Linked DNA regions of Homo sapiens: region 1 is linked to region 2. Evidence: fine-mapped expression QTL. A gene starts in region 2. The other region holds a variant in brackets. All regions are shown on one strand. Distances are between the middles of the regions. Region 1 overlaps PCDHA1 (protocadherin alpha 1). Region 2 holds the start of FCHSD1 (FCH and double SH3 domains 1).

Region 1 (8,335 bases), 790 kb after region 2:
TGAAAGTGTTGTTCCTCATATAAAAATACTATCAAATTTGAATTGTTTTACTTTCAGTCTCCCTTGTTACTTTGGCTGCTAGGGAACTCAAAGAAAAAATTGAAGTTTTATAAAAGCAGCTCTTTAGTGTTTATGTTCCACATGATCTATTCTCATCTCTGTGGGCTTGCATTTTCATATCTATTTTCTATAGTTCTCATTCTTTACTGTTATTTACATTTAATTGCTTTCTGATTATAAGTGACTTTATATTCATTGCAGAACAATATGAAAAACAAATATATTCATATTCTCAAACTTGGTAGTTTTAAAAAAGAATCCACAAAGGAAAAGTCTATTGATCTAGATGAGTTTTTATTTGACATATATTATTTCTAATGTAAGCCATAGTAGCATAATATGAGATATCAAAATTTAGCACTTTATGTAACAGAATCAATGATATGACAGAAATAGGCTTTTCAACTATAAAATAAATTTTATTATCATTTTATAAAATAAATAAAATCACCCTGAACATCTTTGTGCCATATTGGTATTTCCAAGTCACCAACATTGGTTTCCTTAATCTAATTCAGTTATATTCATGAAAATAGTTTGTTTCTTGTTGAAAGAATTTTGGGTTTGGGAGCAGAAGTTCATGGAAAACAAGGGAAGTGATTTTTAATTATACCTTCTGTAAGTACCTGATATTGTGCTTAAAACATAGAAAATTAATCAAACAATTCAACTAAATGGTAAATTACCTTAGTGCTTGTGGAAATGGAATTTCATAGAAAATGCTAAGTAAAATACAGGAATTGCTTATGAGAGTTTTCTTTGCCTGAAGTTGTAACTTGCTTGAATTTTCTTTGTCTTTTCATATACCCTTAGGATTTAGGAGGAAAAAAAGAAGATGCAACAAAATTTTAGAGTAGAAAGTGATTTAGAATAAATATCACTCTAGCTTAAATATTTTGTTCTATAGTTTTGATGGTTTATCTCCAATCTAAAAATACTGCAAGGGCATATGAAAAAGTTATCATATGTGTATGCTAATATTTTATATATATATTCAACTATTAATTTGAGATTTTGTTCTACTTTTTTCATATTTACTCTTTTCCCAATGTTGTCATAACACTAGAACTCTAATTCAGGTAAATGCAAAATTCTGTATTAAAAAATTAAAGGAGACATATCAACTTTTATAACCGTTAATTCCATTACGCATCTGTAAAATAATCAATCATAGTAGCCTCTAATCAAAACATAACATTAGACCAGATGACAGTATATTCAACATGATATTTGAAGCACATCAGGTTTATTTTGAACAAAAGGAAACAACAGATCCTCAATCACCTTATTATGGGAATTGGGGATGAAGATGTTACATGGAATGTGGAGTCTTGCGAGGTAGGGAAATGAACCTTAGAAGGTTTACTCTGGAAAAATGATAATATCACATATTTGAATTAAAACAATATGTTAATTTAGGTGTTAATTTCCAACAATACAGTATTTTGTGAATATATAAAGTAGTACTGAACAAACGCCAAGTCATAAAAGAGTTTGATATAGTGTATGAATCAATGACCCATCTTTTGCATTTTGGCTGTGATATTTCAGATGTCACCATCTCAACCAGCCCCTAGTGAAGAGATTATGCGCCCTTTGAACTCATCTTTGAGGATCAGCCTAATATCTGGGTATAGGCTAATACCAAGAAGTCATTTCAATACAGTTATTGTTAACTGATTTTGTAAAATCAATTGAAGATTAAGGAACTTTGTGCCTGACTTTTACTATATCAGTCAGGACATACAATCTGCCTGTATGTCCTGTTAGTCATATAAGTATTAGAGTGCATAGTTTAATGTCTTACTAGTGCACGTCATCCACTGATATTCTAACAGACCTAGTGCTATTATTTCTTGAAAACACATAAATAAATTTTGACACCGTTGTCAGAACCCCAGGAGGTTCTCCAAAACCAACAGATTAGAATTACATTATCCAACCACTGTATTAACAAAATTATAGGATTTATTCCGTGATGCTAATTCTGCTCTATCATGGCTTAGTCAAGTAAAAACAGTTATTTGGTCACAAATCATTTGTCAGTTGTTATGAGCTTCCCAGCCAACAATAAGACTGAAGAAGACTGAAAGACCTACACACATTTGAAGATTTTCATGGGAATCTATGTCTTTAAAATTGTTATTGAAGTATGCAATATTGTAAACATTTCTTGAATCCTTTGGCCAAGTTCAGGGTCCCTGAAATAATAATATCAACATCTATACTTGTCCCAAACACTGTCTTTATTCACAGTAAAGAAAGAAGGGTGTCATTTTTGGTATATAGTATTTAGTTTAGGTGTTCCACAAGGATATTGGAAACCACAGTTTTCTGACTTTTCTTACATGTTAAACGATTCTTACTTATATCACTTCCAAACAACAGATACGTAGTTCTTATAAGGCAACTCTTAATTACTTAACAATTACATAACCAAAATACCTATCTCAGTGTGGCATTGATTAAAACAAATGATAATGATGATCACGAACTCTTACAAGAAAAAAATCACTTAACATAAAAAAACTTAGTGCCATCTCAATCACACATTGTACAAAATTAATGATGAAGACAATCATGAAGTTTCTTCTAAGCACAACAGAAAGAAAGATTTGCCTGTACACAATTTGTGCTTGATTTTCCTAGCCGAGACCATGTTTGAGCAGAGAAATGACTTACTAAAGAAAGCTCTACATTATAGTGGATAAAAGAATGAGTCTGAAGCCTGAAAGATACACATTTGAATAATATCTCCACCATGTACTGGCACTGGATAAAATAGATACACATCTCAGCTTCTCTTATTTTATCTTTCAAATTGGAACAGTCATATGTACTTTAGAAATTGTTATAAGTATTAAATGAAATAATGTATTTAAGTCCCTTCATGATGTCTAACAAATATATTAATAAACTGCTCAAACAATGGTGATTTATTATCATGAGTTACTGATCAATATTGGCTCTTGTCCTATAGCTATGGATGAAGAGAATTCCAGCACCATAAAGTAGGACAGGGTTTTCCCTTTTCTGAAGATTTCCTTAATGTTTATCTTCATAGAAATCATCTTCTCAGAAGTTATTTTTCTAGGTAGACACTACTAATTCCTTTTCAGCATTTATATTAACTTTACCCTACCTATAACATGGTTATCCTGCAATATGTAAATATACTATTTCTTTACACAGAATTAAAGGCCATCTCATTTGTAATTAGAGCCAAAAAGAGCAAAGTAATTTTACATATAATTTGATACACATCCTTACAGCTATAAATACGTGTTCTCTGGGATCCCTTTAAAGAAAGCAATTCACATTAATATGGTGTGAAGGCAAAAAATATTTTGCATCAAATATATCAAAAGTATACAATGTTAAATTCTAAGGTATAATTAACACCACAATTGTCAAGTGGAAGTGCCTTTATTAATATCCCATGGTTCTTATACTTAAGTTATTAAAAACAATGACATTTTTTGGTAGAGATGGGGGTCTCACTATGTTGCCGAGGCTGGTCTCAAACTCCTGGTCTCAAGCGATCCTCCTCCCTCGGCTTCCCAAAATGCTGGGATTACAGGCCTGAGACACCCTGCCAAGCTCAGCAATGCCATTCTGAAGACCATGCAGCTTAATGAACACAGACAATGGTATCACCCTTCATCATGTATGGGAAGACTCTCTTATACTTAAAGCCCAAATAAGTGTGAATTTTCCTACCCTAAAATATTTTCATACAGCCAGGTACCAAAAATGAAAGAAAAATGAGTATAATCGGTGCTCAAAGAAATCTTCCCAAAATAGTAGAAGAGCTCAACAACTTAAACTGGAGGACAGCAGCAATTAAGTCAACAGGTAATTAAGTAGAGCTGACATTGTTTTGTTTTGTTTTCTTTTTAAAAAAGAACAAAGTTGTTGGCTATCTGAAGTAGTTGAAGATTGTGAAGACAATGACCTAAAATGAAATTATAAGAAGATTGAAGACAAAAATTAAGAAGTAAAATCACCTTTAAAGGCAAGGCTAAAATTCCACCCACTGCAATCAACATCTCAAAAAAGATGGATATTGATCATGAAGAAACAAAATTGTTTGTGGACGAAGCTGCCTCAACCCTGCTCATCACCATTTGTGAGAGATAAACTTATCGATTATAGAAAGATAAACATTTAAACATGTTTTAAACTCAAATAATTATGATATTAAATATTGTCATGGTATTTTTGAATACATAAAAACAATAAGGAATGGAGGACACAAATCAGAATAAGAAAATGAATAGGAATAAAGAACTTGCTTCAAAATTGAGAAGATTTGACCTTCTCATAAGGATCATTATTCATCATGATCCTTCCGGTAAGATTTAACTTTCTCATTTACAGGAAACAGCCACTCAGTCTAATTCATTATTACTATTATCATTATACTTATCAACTGAAGAATATTCCTAAAGAATGTTCATGGTGACTGTAGTAAAAAGTGATTAAGATGGCTAGACTTCCAATGTACTTTTTTTTTTAAGACAGAGTTTCACCCTGTCTCCCAGGCTGTAGTGCAGTGGCCTAATCTAGGCTCACCGCAACCTCTGCCTCCTAGGTTCAAGCAATTCTTGTGCCTCAGCCTCCTGAGTAGCTGGGATTACAGGTGCGCACCACCACACCCAGCTAATTTTTTTATATCTTTAGTAGAGATGGAGTTTCACCATGTTGGCCAGGCTGGTCTCAAACTCCTGGCCTCGAGTGATCCGCCCGCCTCGGCTTCCCAAAGTGCCGGGATTACAAATA[G/A]GCATGAGCTACCGCACCCGGCCCCAGTGTACTTTAAATAAAGCATCTCAAAAGAAAAAGCAAAAGCAAAATAAATAAAGCAATCAAATTAATAACTTGGTGAACATTATCAATGTCACTATGAGGGACATTAATAGGAATGAAATACTTTCCAGGATTACAGTACTTATATTCTCAAAAATTTCCTATTGAAGTCCATCTCCAAAATCTGAACCATGGGAGAACACTAGGACTAAAAGCCGTAATGTTGACCTTGGGAGGCGACTCTCCAGAGTAAAATCTCCTTTGCTGCGAGTAAGACCAGATCCCACTACGCTGCGGTACACCAGCGTGGGCTTGCCCGGCATGCACGAGCTCTCGGTGAGCTGCGCCAAGCACCGCAGCGTCGTGTACAGCAGCAACGTGAGCACTAACAGGCTGGACACCACGCAGATGGCGATGATCAGGTACACGTTGACATCCACCAGCGCTGCCTCCCGGACCTCGACGCCCGCCAAAGCCCGCGATGGGACCTTCCTCGCTTGGCTGCTCTCCGCCAGCGACGCCACCACGGTGACGGTGGCAGTCAGCGCCAGCTCGCAGTGGTCCTTCACCAGCACCAGCAGGCGGTGGCGCGTAGCTTTCGCCTCGTCCAGGGTACTCGTCGTGCTGATCTCGCCCGTGCAGAGCCCCACGTGGAACGGGTGCTGCCAGCTGACAGATGCAGCTGTTGCGACAACCAGGCGTCATAGCTGGAGTCCACCGTGCGCACCTTCGCCACCAAGTGGCCTGCATCCACTGAATACCGCACCAGCTCACTCACAGCGCCGCCAGCCCACCCAAGGCGCCAGCAGCGCAGACAAAGTTGTCGTTCCAGCACTAATACCTGGCAGCGTCACATTGCTGCTCAGAGGCGGCATGCCCGCGTCGCGCGCTCTCACCTAGAACTGCAGCAGCTCCAGCTCCTCGTAGTCCAGTGGCTGCAACGCGTACCTCTTGCCGCTCTCCGCGTGCACCCACACATAGCTAGACAGCGCGCACTCGCCCACCCGCTGTTCCATCAACGAGTAGGACACCAGCACGTTCTCCTGCGCGTCCCGGTCCCGCGCGGACACTGTGAAGTCGTGGCAGCCCCGCGGGTTGTTACCTTTCACGAACACCATGTACTCGGGCTGCTGGAACGCCAGGGCATTGTGGTTCACTGTTCGGCCACTTCCACGGACCCGATGGCTGTGGCCAACAATGAAAGCGAGTCCCCATTCCGAGCGATTACCAACAATGGATAGATTTGCTCTCTTGGTCCAGGGCGCTGTGGAGTACCAACGAATAGTTTCTGGGCAGCGCCTTTTGAAGGTAGACACCAGCTTGAAGAGACGTGAGGAGTCAGGGTGCGGGTCGTCTGTCCCTTGGCACTGAAGTTAGGGTCAATTACACTGATTAGGGCTATGACGGTACCCAGTGGAGCGTCCTCCTGTACAGGGAATGATAGTGACTTACTGCTAACTCTGGAACACTATCATTGATGTCCAAGACTTCTATCAAGTCTGTGCAGTGATCAAACATTGGGGAATTGCCTGTGTCAACTGCCTGTATTTGAATCTTTCATTATTTAGTTTCCTCAAAACCTATCTTTACATTTATTTATCCACTGTCTGAATCTATGCGAAAAAGGGCTTCTATGTTAGGGGAGACATCAGTTGCAAAGAAACAATGTGACGGTTTGAACCCTCGTCAAAATCCAAGGGGTTAAGTCTAATAACCAGTGTACCTTCTCTTGCATTTTCCAGTAATTTCACATGATAGACTCCTTTGTCAAACACTGGGCATCATCATTTACATCCAGCGCTGTGATATATAATGCTTTGGTGCCTGTCAGCTCAGCTTCGCCCCCATCAGTTGCTTTGAGCACCAAGAGTAGCTCTGAAGTGACTTACCTATCTGAAAGAATTTTTAAAATACACCTTCAAGTGGTTTTACCTGCTCTTGGTATTTCCAGGGAAAAATAATCATTGCGGCACAGTATGTAAGTCATCAGAGCATTGGCCCCGACGTCGGCATCACAGACACCCTCTAGTGAAACACGATAATCAAGAGCTCTCGTTTCAGAAACAGATTCTTTTGTGTTGCTGAGAACACTGGCAGGTTGTCTTTATTGTTCTTCACTTTCACCTCCACATGGAAAACCTGTAGCAGCTTGTCCACGATCACTTCCAGGTGGATGCTGCACTCCGAGATCCTCCCACACAGCTCCTCGAGGTCTATCAGAGAACTCACAAAAATGCCATTCTGCAGATTTACCTCCAGAAGGTTTCTGCGGCTTTTGGAATCCAACTGAAACAGGCGCGGTATCAGCTCCACAAGCTCCAGACCCAGGTCCTGCGCAATAGGGACCGCGAAGACGCTATGTGCCGTCCTTGGCCTCTTCCAGGATGGTGTAGTGGAACTGGTCCTTTCCCGCTTCACAAAATTCAAGGAGCAGAAGCCAGTGCTGTAGGCTCCGGGATTCCTGGCCACTTTGTCTAGCAGCTAAAATTATGCCTCTCTTTTGGTTAGTAAAACAATATTTCATGACTAGAAAGACTTAGTTCCTCTGAGACCTTTTGGTCCTTGTTCCTGAGGTTCCAAGTGGTCTTAATGGGTGTTTGTAGTTTTTAAAGTACAGGAACAATGGAGCTTCTTTCTGATCTAGGAATAATCTGATTTTCTTCTGTTAAAAAAAATACCTTTCGGCCGGGTGCGGTGGCACTCGGCCAGCACTTTGGGAAGCCGAGGCCGGTGGATCACGAGGTCAGGAGATCTAGACCATCCTGGCTAACACGGTGAAACCTCGTCTCTACTAAAAATACAAAAAATTAGCCTGGCGTGTTGGCGGGCACCTGTAGTCCCAGCTACTCCGGAGGCTGAGGCAGGAGAATAGCGTGAACCTGGGAGGCGGAGCTTGCAGTGAGCCGAGATCGTGCCACTGCACTCCAGCCTGGGCAACAGAGCGAGACTCCGTCTCAAAAAAATAAAAAATAAAAAACAAAAAAACCAAAAAAACTTTTCATGGAGAACAACAATATCCTGTCGCTCAAAACATAAGTGCATTTGATTTCATATTATTTCACTTATCTTCTTCGTTCCTGATTCCTGCATATGTTTATGTTTCTCTTTGTGAGCTTCCAACTCCTTTCCTATACCTTCTTGTGTATGATCAGTACCTCTTCAAAGGTGGGTTTGTCTTACAAATCAGAATTCCATGAAGAGTTTTATCTTGTATGTAGACATCCTAAATAAAGTACTACTGCACCAACTGTATTATCACGTGAATTAATATGAAAAAGATCATATTTGCAGGATAATGGTGTTACTATTGCTTTTGCTTTTTTCAATTTTTGAAATAGGGTCTCACTTTGTCATCCAGGCTGGAGTGCAGTGGCACAATCATGGGTCACTGCAGCCTCAACTTCCCAGGCTCAAGCCGTCCTCCCACCTCACCCTCCCAAGTAGCACTACAGTAGGGACTAAAGGCATG
Region 2 (8,332 bases):
CTTCCCTCTTTGTATGCTCCATTCCTATAGCTGTGACCCTCTCTCTCCCTCTGATTCCATTCTGATCACCCCAGCTACTTGTCCTGCACTGACGAGGATGAAATGTGGGATTGGACCACCAGCATCCTTAAAGCCCAGGTGAGGGGAAAGAAAAGGCTGAGGGCTGGGTCTGTGGTCCCCCTGGGGCCCAGCTGTCCTCCTCAGTGCCTTTCATGCCCACTGATGCCAACCCCTCACGCTCCCACCAGCACGATGACCAGCAGCCAGTGGTCTTACGACGCCATTCCTCCTCTGACCTTGCCCGTCAGAAGTTTGGCACTATGCCTTTGCTGCCTATCCGTGGGGATGACAGTGGAGCCACCCTCCTCTCTGCCAATCAGACCCTGGTAAGGCACCCCACCCTGCCCCAACCCGATTCCTGTCGTGTAGCCCTTGTCACATTGCAGTAGGCAGTGGTGTGCCTGCTAGCCTGGTGCCACCCTATGCTCACTGTCCCCCTCCCTTCTGCCTTCTTCACCCCCATTCCCCACCCCTGTCTCCTGTTGCTAGTCCTCACTGTGTCTTTATGTCTTTCCTTCCCCTTGTCCCCACCCCACCTGTGTCCAGCGGCGACTACACAACCGGAGGACCCTGTCCATGTTCTTTGTGAGTATTGTGCCTGCTCCAGCGGTGTGCCTGTCAACCCTGTATTCCTCTGTGCTGCCTGAGCCCCGGGTGTGCTGTTTTCCTCATGTAGGCCATCAGGGGGTGTGTGTGTGTGTGTGTGTGTGTGTGTGTGTGTAGGCCATCAGGGTGTGTGTGTGTGTGTGTGTGTGTGTGTGTGTAGGCCATCAGGGTGTGTGTGTGTGTGAGAGAGAGAGAGGGAGAGCGAGGAAAAGGGAGAGGGAGAGGGACAGGACAGAGAGAGAGAGGAGGCCAGAAAGAATGAGGAAAATGAGGGATGTAAGATGCAGTAATAAAAGGAGAAAGGTCGGGCACAGTGGCTCATGCCTGTAATCCCAGCACTTTGGGAGGCTGAGGTGGGTGGATCCCCTGAGGTCAGGAGTTCAAGACCAGTCTAATCGACATGGTGAAATCCCGTCTCTACTAAAAATACAAAATTAGCTAGGTGTGGTGGTGCATGCCTGTGATCCCAGCTACTTGGGAGGCTGAGGCAGGAGAATCACTTGAACCTGGGAGGCGGAGGTTGCAGTGAGCCAAGATCGCACCACTGCACTCCAGCCTAGGCAACAAGAGTAAAACTCTGTCTCAAAAAAAAAAAAAAAGGAAAAAGTTGTCACAGAATCTGTGAAATAGAAGGAAAGTGATGAAGTGAATGCATTTTGGAGTTAGACAGACCTGGGTTCAAACCCCAGCTCTACCATTCACTCATTATGTGATGCTGGGCAACTTACTTAACCCCTTTGCATTCAGTTGACTCAGTGTAACCCACTGCACAGGGTTGTTCCAGAATCATACATGCCAAGTATTTTACAGCATCTGGCCCAGAGGAAGAGCTCAGTAAATGTTAGTGATTCATAATCTGGTAACTTTAACTATGTGCCCACTCCTGCCATTCCATTCCCATCCAGCCAATGAAGTCATCCCAGGGGTCTGTGGAGGAGCAAGAGGAGCTGGAGGAGCCTGTGTACGAGGAGCCAGTGTATGAGGAAGTAGGGGCCTTCCCTGAGTTGATCCAGGACACTTCTACCTCCTTCTCCACCACACGGGAGTGGACAGTGAAGCCAGAGAACCCCCTCACCAGCCAGAAGTCATTGGATCAACCCTTTCTCTCCAAGTCAAGCACCCTTGGCCAGGAGGAGAGGCCACCTGAGCCCCCTCCAGGCCCCCCTTCAAAGAGCAGTCCCCAGGCACGGGGGTCCCTAGAGGAACAGCTGCTCCAGGAGCTCAGCAGCCTCATCCTGAGGAAAGGAGAGACCACTGCAGGCCTGGGAAGTCCTTCCCAGCCATCCAGCCCCCAATCCCCCAGCCCCACTGGCCTTCCAACACAGACACCTGGCTTCCCCACCCAACCCCCATGCACTTCCAGTCCACCCTCCAGCCAGCCCCTCACATGACCCTAGGACCAGCAGTCTGAGAGGGTAGGTACCAGAAGACCCAGAAACTCTTATCGTGGCACTGTTGCAGCTTCCTCTGCCCTGGCTGGAAAGACTCCAGAATCCAGTGTGGTGCTGTGGAAGGAGCACTGGACTAAAGGCTTCAGTGGCTGCGTGTCCCAGGACAGGTCATGGCCCCTCTCTGGGCCCAGCCCATTTATCTATACCATGAGGTAACTGAAGTAAGGAGAGCAGTGAATGTCAAACTGTGTTTCTTAGAGCCATAAGCCCCACATATTATCCCTGAACAAGGGCAGCTCCTGCTTTATATATTTGATACGTAGGGGTTCCATGAGAGATTTTGGGTTTTAAAGGAATGGTTTTACTGCATTAAAGAAAAAAAATGCTTTGGAAACCAGAGGCCTGGGTGATGTTAAAGTCTATCCTGTCCCACTTCCTACATTCTGGGACTACCGTGAAGCCTGGAGTAGGGAGAGCGAGTTTGGGAGCTGGGACTCGGGGAGTCAAAAATAGATGAGTAATTGTCAATAAACCTGGGAACCAAAAGACTACCATTCTCATTCATTCATTCAACAAATATGTATTGTGCACCTAATTGGTGCCAGGTCTGGGGATATAGCATGAACAAAACAAACAGGGCCCCTGCTCTTATGAATCCTCCGTTGTGGAGGGGAACAGAAAATAGCAAATAAACACATAAACCAGTACTTGAACAAGTGAGTTTAGTGCTGTGAAGAAACTGAACCAAAGTGATGAGCTTGAAGAGTGATTGTGGAGGCCAGGCGCAGTGGCTCACACCTGTAATCCCAGCACTTTGGGAGGCTGAGGGGGATGGATTACCTGAGGTCAGGAGTTTGAGACCATCCTGGCAAAGATGGTGAAACCCTGTCTCTACTAAAAATACAAAATTAGCTGGTTGTGGTGGCACGTGCTTGTAATCCCAGCTACTCGGGAGGCTGAAGCAGAAGAATCACTTGAACCTGGTAGGTGGAGGTTGCAGTGAGCCGAGATTGCACCATTGCACTCCAGCCTGGCAACAGAGCAAGACTCCATCTCAAAAAAAAAAGAGTGATTGTGGAGATGGTCTTTGGATGGGTGGATGGGGAAGGCATCTGTGAAGAGTTGCAAAGTAAGGGAAAGAAGCTGTTGGAGGCGACAGATGGAACGCTGGAAGGAGGAGATTCTGGAGAAAGAAAGCAGGCATGAAGAACTCTGCATTGGAAGGGACTTGGTCTACTGAGGGAACAGCAAAGAGGCTGGAGCACAGTGAGCAGACAGTGGGAGGAGAGTACAGGCTGAAGTAAGAAAGACCAGCAGGGTCTTCCATGCGTAGCCTTGAAGGCCATGGATTCTATTTGGATTTTATTCTGAAGCAAGTGCATTTTAAGCAAGTAAATTATGAGATCTTATTTCCCTTTAAAAAAGAAAAAAAAGGTTGATCACTCTGAGTGCTGTGTGAACAGTGGGTTGGGGTGAGGGCAGTGTGGAAGCAAGGAGATCAGATATTAGACCAGAAGTCTAATAATGGGGGCTTGGACTAGGATGGTGGTCTTGGAAATTGAGGGAAGTGGATCAAGAGGTTTTTGTTTGTTTATTGTTGTTTGAAATAGAACCTGTAGGACTTACTGATGGATAGAATGTAGGGGTAGGAGAAGGCACATTGACTCTGGGTTTCTGACTTAACTGACTGGAGGAAATGCGGTGCCATTTAAAACGTTACGGGGGGAGGATCAGGTTGAAGGAGGTTTAAAAGCTTTAAAAGTTGAGGTTCCTATTAGATATACTAGCAGAGGTGTCAGTGGGGAGTTGGAATGTGAATCTGGAGTTTTGAGACATGTCAGGGGTACTGGGACAGGTGCCTGAGCCAAAGAAGCTTAGGTGAGGAGGATGAGGAATTGGGGAGAGGCTCCTCAGGAAGCAGTGCTAGGGCTGGAAGATCCTAAAGGTGGCAGGGGCTTCCTGCGCATCTCCCAGCTCTCGCCGACTCACTGGTATCGTTTAGTTTTCAGTGGGGCCAAGTCTTTTTCCCTTTGGGCCTGGTTCCTTCCTGGATCCAGGCATCTTTCTCACCCCGCTCACGCTGGCTTTTCCAGTTAAGCGGGAATTAGGAAAAGGTCTGGGACCAGCCCTCTCTTCGTCAGATGCATCTTTGCTCAGGTGCCCAGTGACTCAGTTTCCCTGGTCACACACTGAATTCCTCTCCATTCCTCATCATTAGCTCGGGGACTGGGGATCTACATATGCAAATGAATAATTATCAATAATTACAGGCTGAATCAGTGGTTACACTACAAATAGAACTTAGGCGTCTTGACTCAGATGCCTGGGGTTCTTCCCACCGCCCAGCGGACGCTGCGTCCGCCCCGCCCGCCCCGCCACCCGGACCCTGCCGGCGTATTCGCAGCAGTAACAGGTTTAGTTTCTCGGTGGCCCCCTCTCGCTTCCGCGCCCTGCGACGTCGCCGGACAAGTCGTGGGCGGGCAGAGGGCGGGGCCTGACCTGGCCTGGGGCGGGGCTCCATAGTGGGCGGGGCTTCCTCCAGTTCCGGAGTCCAGTGGCTGACCGCCTTGCTGGAGCGGAGATGCAGCCGCCGCCCCGAAAAGTGAGCTTGGCCCTGAATGGGGACTCCTGGCGGGCTGGGGGAACGGAGGGAGCTAAGGGGGCATCCGACTTGTGGTAGGAGACGGGAAGTCGGAAGGGGTCAGACCCCAAACCAGAAGTAACAGAGGAAAGAGCTCAGCACCCCCCCGGCCCCGCCCCCTCACCGCTCCCTGCGCGGAGTGTTTTTTAGGTCCTTGCGCTGGGGTCTTCATCCTCTCTTTGCCCCCACAGGTGAAGCCGGCCCAGGAGGTGAAGCTTCGCTTCCTGGAACAGCTGAGCATCCTTCAGACCTGGCAGCAGAGGGAGGCGGATCTGCTGGAGGACATCAGGTAGCTCCCCCAACCCCCTTCATTTACACTCACCTTCGTCGTTGTGCGCCACTTCTCCCCAATATACATGTGCTGGGGTGGAGGAACAGGGGCCAAGAGCTCCCCAGCCGACCCATCCACAGCCCTCACCCTAGGCCTGGCCTCTCCAGATACTGGATAGGAATGCTCCCCCACCTAACCCCTCCCAACCCCCTCCCACCCACATAAACACACAGGAACCCTCCCTCAAAGCCCTTGACTCCACACCACTGCCCCCAACCCCACAATCAACCTTAGGGCAGAATCCCTCTCCCTCTTCCAGACCTGTTGGAAGGCTGGCAGACATCGTACCCAGGCCCCCATCAGTCTTCACCTCTAAGCCTACAGATGAACCTCTGGGGTGGGGAGGATCCTGCTGGGGCCCGGGGCAGTAAGGTGAGGGTTTCCTGTGTTGCAGCTGCCCGAGGTGATCTCAAGGACTCCCATCAGTCCCATTCCCTCTGGGTGTAGTTACACTCTAGGAACCTGGCTCCCCCCAACCGCTCCCTCCTGCCCAGAGTAGAGGACTGAGGATGGGAGAACAGGACCAAACATAACCTTATCCCCCACCTCACCCCCGACCTGCAATCTCCGCAGATCCTACAGCAAGCAGAGGGCAGCCATTGAACGGGAGTATGGGCAGGTATGGGACTTTTCTCTGGACCTTACCTCTTGTTCCAGCCTCTCTTATATCACCAGTAATGTCTGTCCATACCTATCCCTATTGTGGTCAAGAGCAGATGCCTAGAGTCAAGCAGACTGGTGTCAGATCCCTGCTGTGTAATTATAGCCATGTGACCTTGGACAAGTTACTTAACCTTTCTTGACCTCAGTTTCTTTCTCTGTGAAATGGGAATAATAATAATACCTTACCTTCATGTAGGGTTGTTGTAAGGATTAAACAAATTAATGACTATAAGGCATTTAGCAAAGCAAGTGGCACATAATGTACCCAAAGAATGGTATGATTATACTCTGATGTCATATTCTGCCAGTTGGGGTGGGTCTTTGAAAGGGAACTTGGTTCTGTGATGGCTTTTTCACCAGGCACTCCAGAAACTGGCTGGCCCATTCCTGAAGAGGGAAGGGCACCGGAGCGGTGAGATGGACAGCAGGTGGGCCCTATGGAGGGGGAGGGCCACAGAGGCCAAAAAGTGATGGGGAGCTCAGCCCCAGGAACCTGTGGGGATGAAGGCCTAGCAAGTGGGGAAGGCACGTGAGCTGTAGGTAGAGCTGACACAGCAGCAGCAGAGGAGCTGACCCAGCAAGGACACTGTGGGTGGGGTGGAGGGCAGGAGTGAGGCTTGTGGCTGAGCTAATGGGCTGATCGATTGATGGGCTCCCAGACAAGGGAGGATGGGAAAGCACTCTGTCTCCCATGGTGTTGGTCAGGGGGCAGGGGGTGGGGGTGGTCTCATGAAGCTGTGGAGTGCTCTCCTCCTCAACACAGACCTTCTCTGGGGAGGGGCAGGACAGTGTTCGGTGCCTGGCGCTGCCTGCTGGATGCCACCGTGGCTGGGGGCCAAACCCGACTCCAGGCGTCTGACCGATACCGTGACCTAGCAGGGGGTACAGGGCGGAGCGCCAAGGAGCAGGTGCTTAGGAAGGTATGGCTCAGAGGTTGGGGTGAAGGAAGAGCTGGCTTGGGACCAAAGGTGGTCTAGGTAAGGACTTTGTGTATGCATCCCAATAGGGAACAGAGAACCTCCAGAGGGCGCAGGCTGAGGTGCTGCAGTCTGTCCGGGAGCTGAGCCGAAGTCGGAAGCTGTATGGGCAGCGGGAACGTGTGTGGGCCTTGGCACAGGAGAAGGCGGCTGATGTCCAGGCCAGGTGGGGTCATGGAGAGTGAGGAAGCCCAAGGTTGGGGAACAGGGAGGTGGGGCTGTCTAGGGGTGGAGCCAAGTCACCAAAGCTGGGCCTGACTCTGATCTCATATTCTCCCACTTGGGGTGGGCCTGACTCCTTTCTCTCATCTGCACAGGCTAAACCGAAGTGACCATGGGATCTTCCACTCTCGGACCAGTCTCCAGAAACTGAGCACCAAGGTTCGAGGGATGAGGGCATGAGTGGGGGCAGGGAAGAGGGAGGCAGAGTAGTCTAGTGGTTTGGAACATAGGTGCATATGTATGAAAGACTGGGTTGAATCCAGGCTCTCCTACTTCCTGGGTGGGTAACCTTGGTTAATTTACTTGATCTCTGTGAGCCTTATTTTCTTCTATAAAATGGAGAGAATACCCTTCTTTTTCAGTCCTTTAATATGCATTTATTGAGGATCTGTATATAATAGGCACTGTTCTAGACATTATGGATACAGTGGAGAACACTACCAATGGAGTTCCTGCCCTCACAGTCTGGTTAAGAGAGACAGACAGCAAATAAATACTTAGATTAAGATGAAAATAAAACAAGGTACTATGATAAAGAATAACAAGGGGGTAGAATTTAGAGGGAGGCCTCTCTGAATAGGTGGCCTAACTGTCAAGAAGGAGCTGGCCTTGCAAAGATCTAGGGGAAGAACATTGCAGAGAGAAGAAATGGTGAGTGCAAAGGGTCTGAGGTGGGAATAACTTTGTAGGCTCGAGGAACTGAGAGAGGGCCAGTATGGCTGGAGTACTGTGAGCAAGGGAACAAGCGCTTGAAAAGAGGTCAGAGAGATTGCGGGGGCCAGCTCATATTGAACGTGGTGGACCATGGTAAGGAACAGTGGATTTTATTTTAAATGCGTGCAGAAGGCACTAGAAGATTTTGAGCAGGAGTTGTGTGTATGCAACATTTTTAGTGTAGTGCCAGGCACATAGTAAGCACTCAATAATGTGAGAATCCATTCTGGATCTGGCTTCTCAATTGGTCTTGGAAGGACTCTGGGGGTCTAGGGCTTCCTATTGACATCAGTTTACCCTCCTAGCTGTCCGCCCAGTCAGCCCAGTACTCCCAGCAGCTGCAAGCAGCCCGCAATGAGTACCTGCTTAACTTGGTGGCTACCAATGCCCACCTCGACCATTACTACCAGGAGGAACTGCCAGCTCTGCTCAAGGCCAGTTTTAACCCAGACACCCCTATCCCTCAGCAGGGAGGGAAAGGAGGACCTCCCCCTGCTTCTTGATCCCCATGACAGTGGGTGGTGCAGGGGATCTTGTCTGTTTAGAGTGAGTAGATGATACATACATGCACTCTGGTTCTGCTCCTAGCTGGCTGCATGGCATTGTACAGTACACTTAAACTCTTCCGAACCCCAGATTCCTCATCAGGGATAACCCTTTCTCTGCCTATCTTATAGCACTAGTGGGGCTCAAAGGAGAGAATGGATGTGAACGTGTTTTAAACTTC

Evidence for each region.
Region 1: its variant is fine-mapped to the expression of FCHSD1 in whole blood (INTERVAL, PIP above 0.99).

What each region holds. Positions count from the first base shown.
Region 1 is chr5:140,860,243-140,868,577 of GRCh38, reverse strand. All of the region lies in intron 1 of PCDHA1 (protocadherin alpha 1), which reads right to left. All of the region lies in intron 1 of PCDHA2 (protocadherin alpha 2), which reads right to left. The region is part of intron 1 of PCDHA3 (protocadherin alpha 3); the gene reads right to left. The region is part of intron 1 of PCDHA4 (protocadherin alpha 4); the gene reads right to left. It also overlaps PCDHA5, PCDHA6, PCDHA7, PCDHA8, PCDHA9 and PCDHA10, and 3 more genes. Among named protein-coding and RNA genes, the nearest start is that of PCDHA11, 4.5 kb to the left of the region's middle. The variant G/A (reference allele first, on the strand shown) is at 4,843.
Region 2 is chr5:141,647,675-141,656,006 of GRCh38, reverse strand. FCHSD1 (FCH and double SH3 domains 1) reads left to right here and starts at 4,589. Exons shown (of 20, transcript NM_033449.3): 1 at 4,589-4,659; 2 at 4,890-4,987; 3 at 5,603-5,648; 4 at 6,053-6,120; 5 at 6,471-6,612; 6 at 6,699-6,835; 7 at 6,987-7,050; 8 at 7,911-8,039. The coding sequence starts at 4,639. ARAP3 (ArfGAP with RhoGAP domain, ankyrin repeat and PH domain 3) reads left to right here. Exons shown (of 33, transcript NM_022481.6): 30 at 75-138; 31 at 249-386; 32 at 607-645; 33 at 1,572-2,605. The coding sequence ends at 2,057. RefSeq lists an enhancer at 5,989-6,567.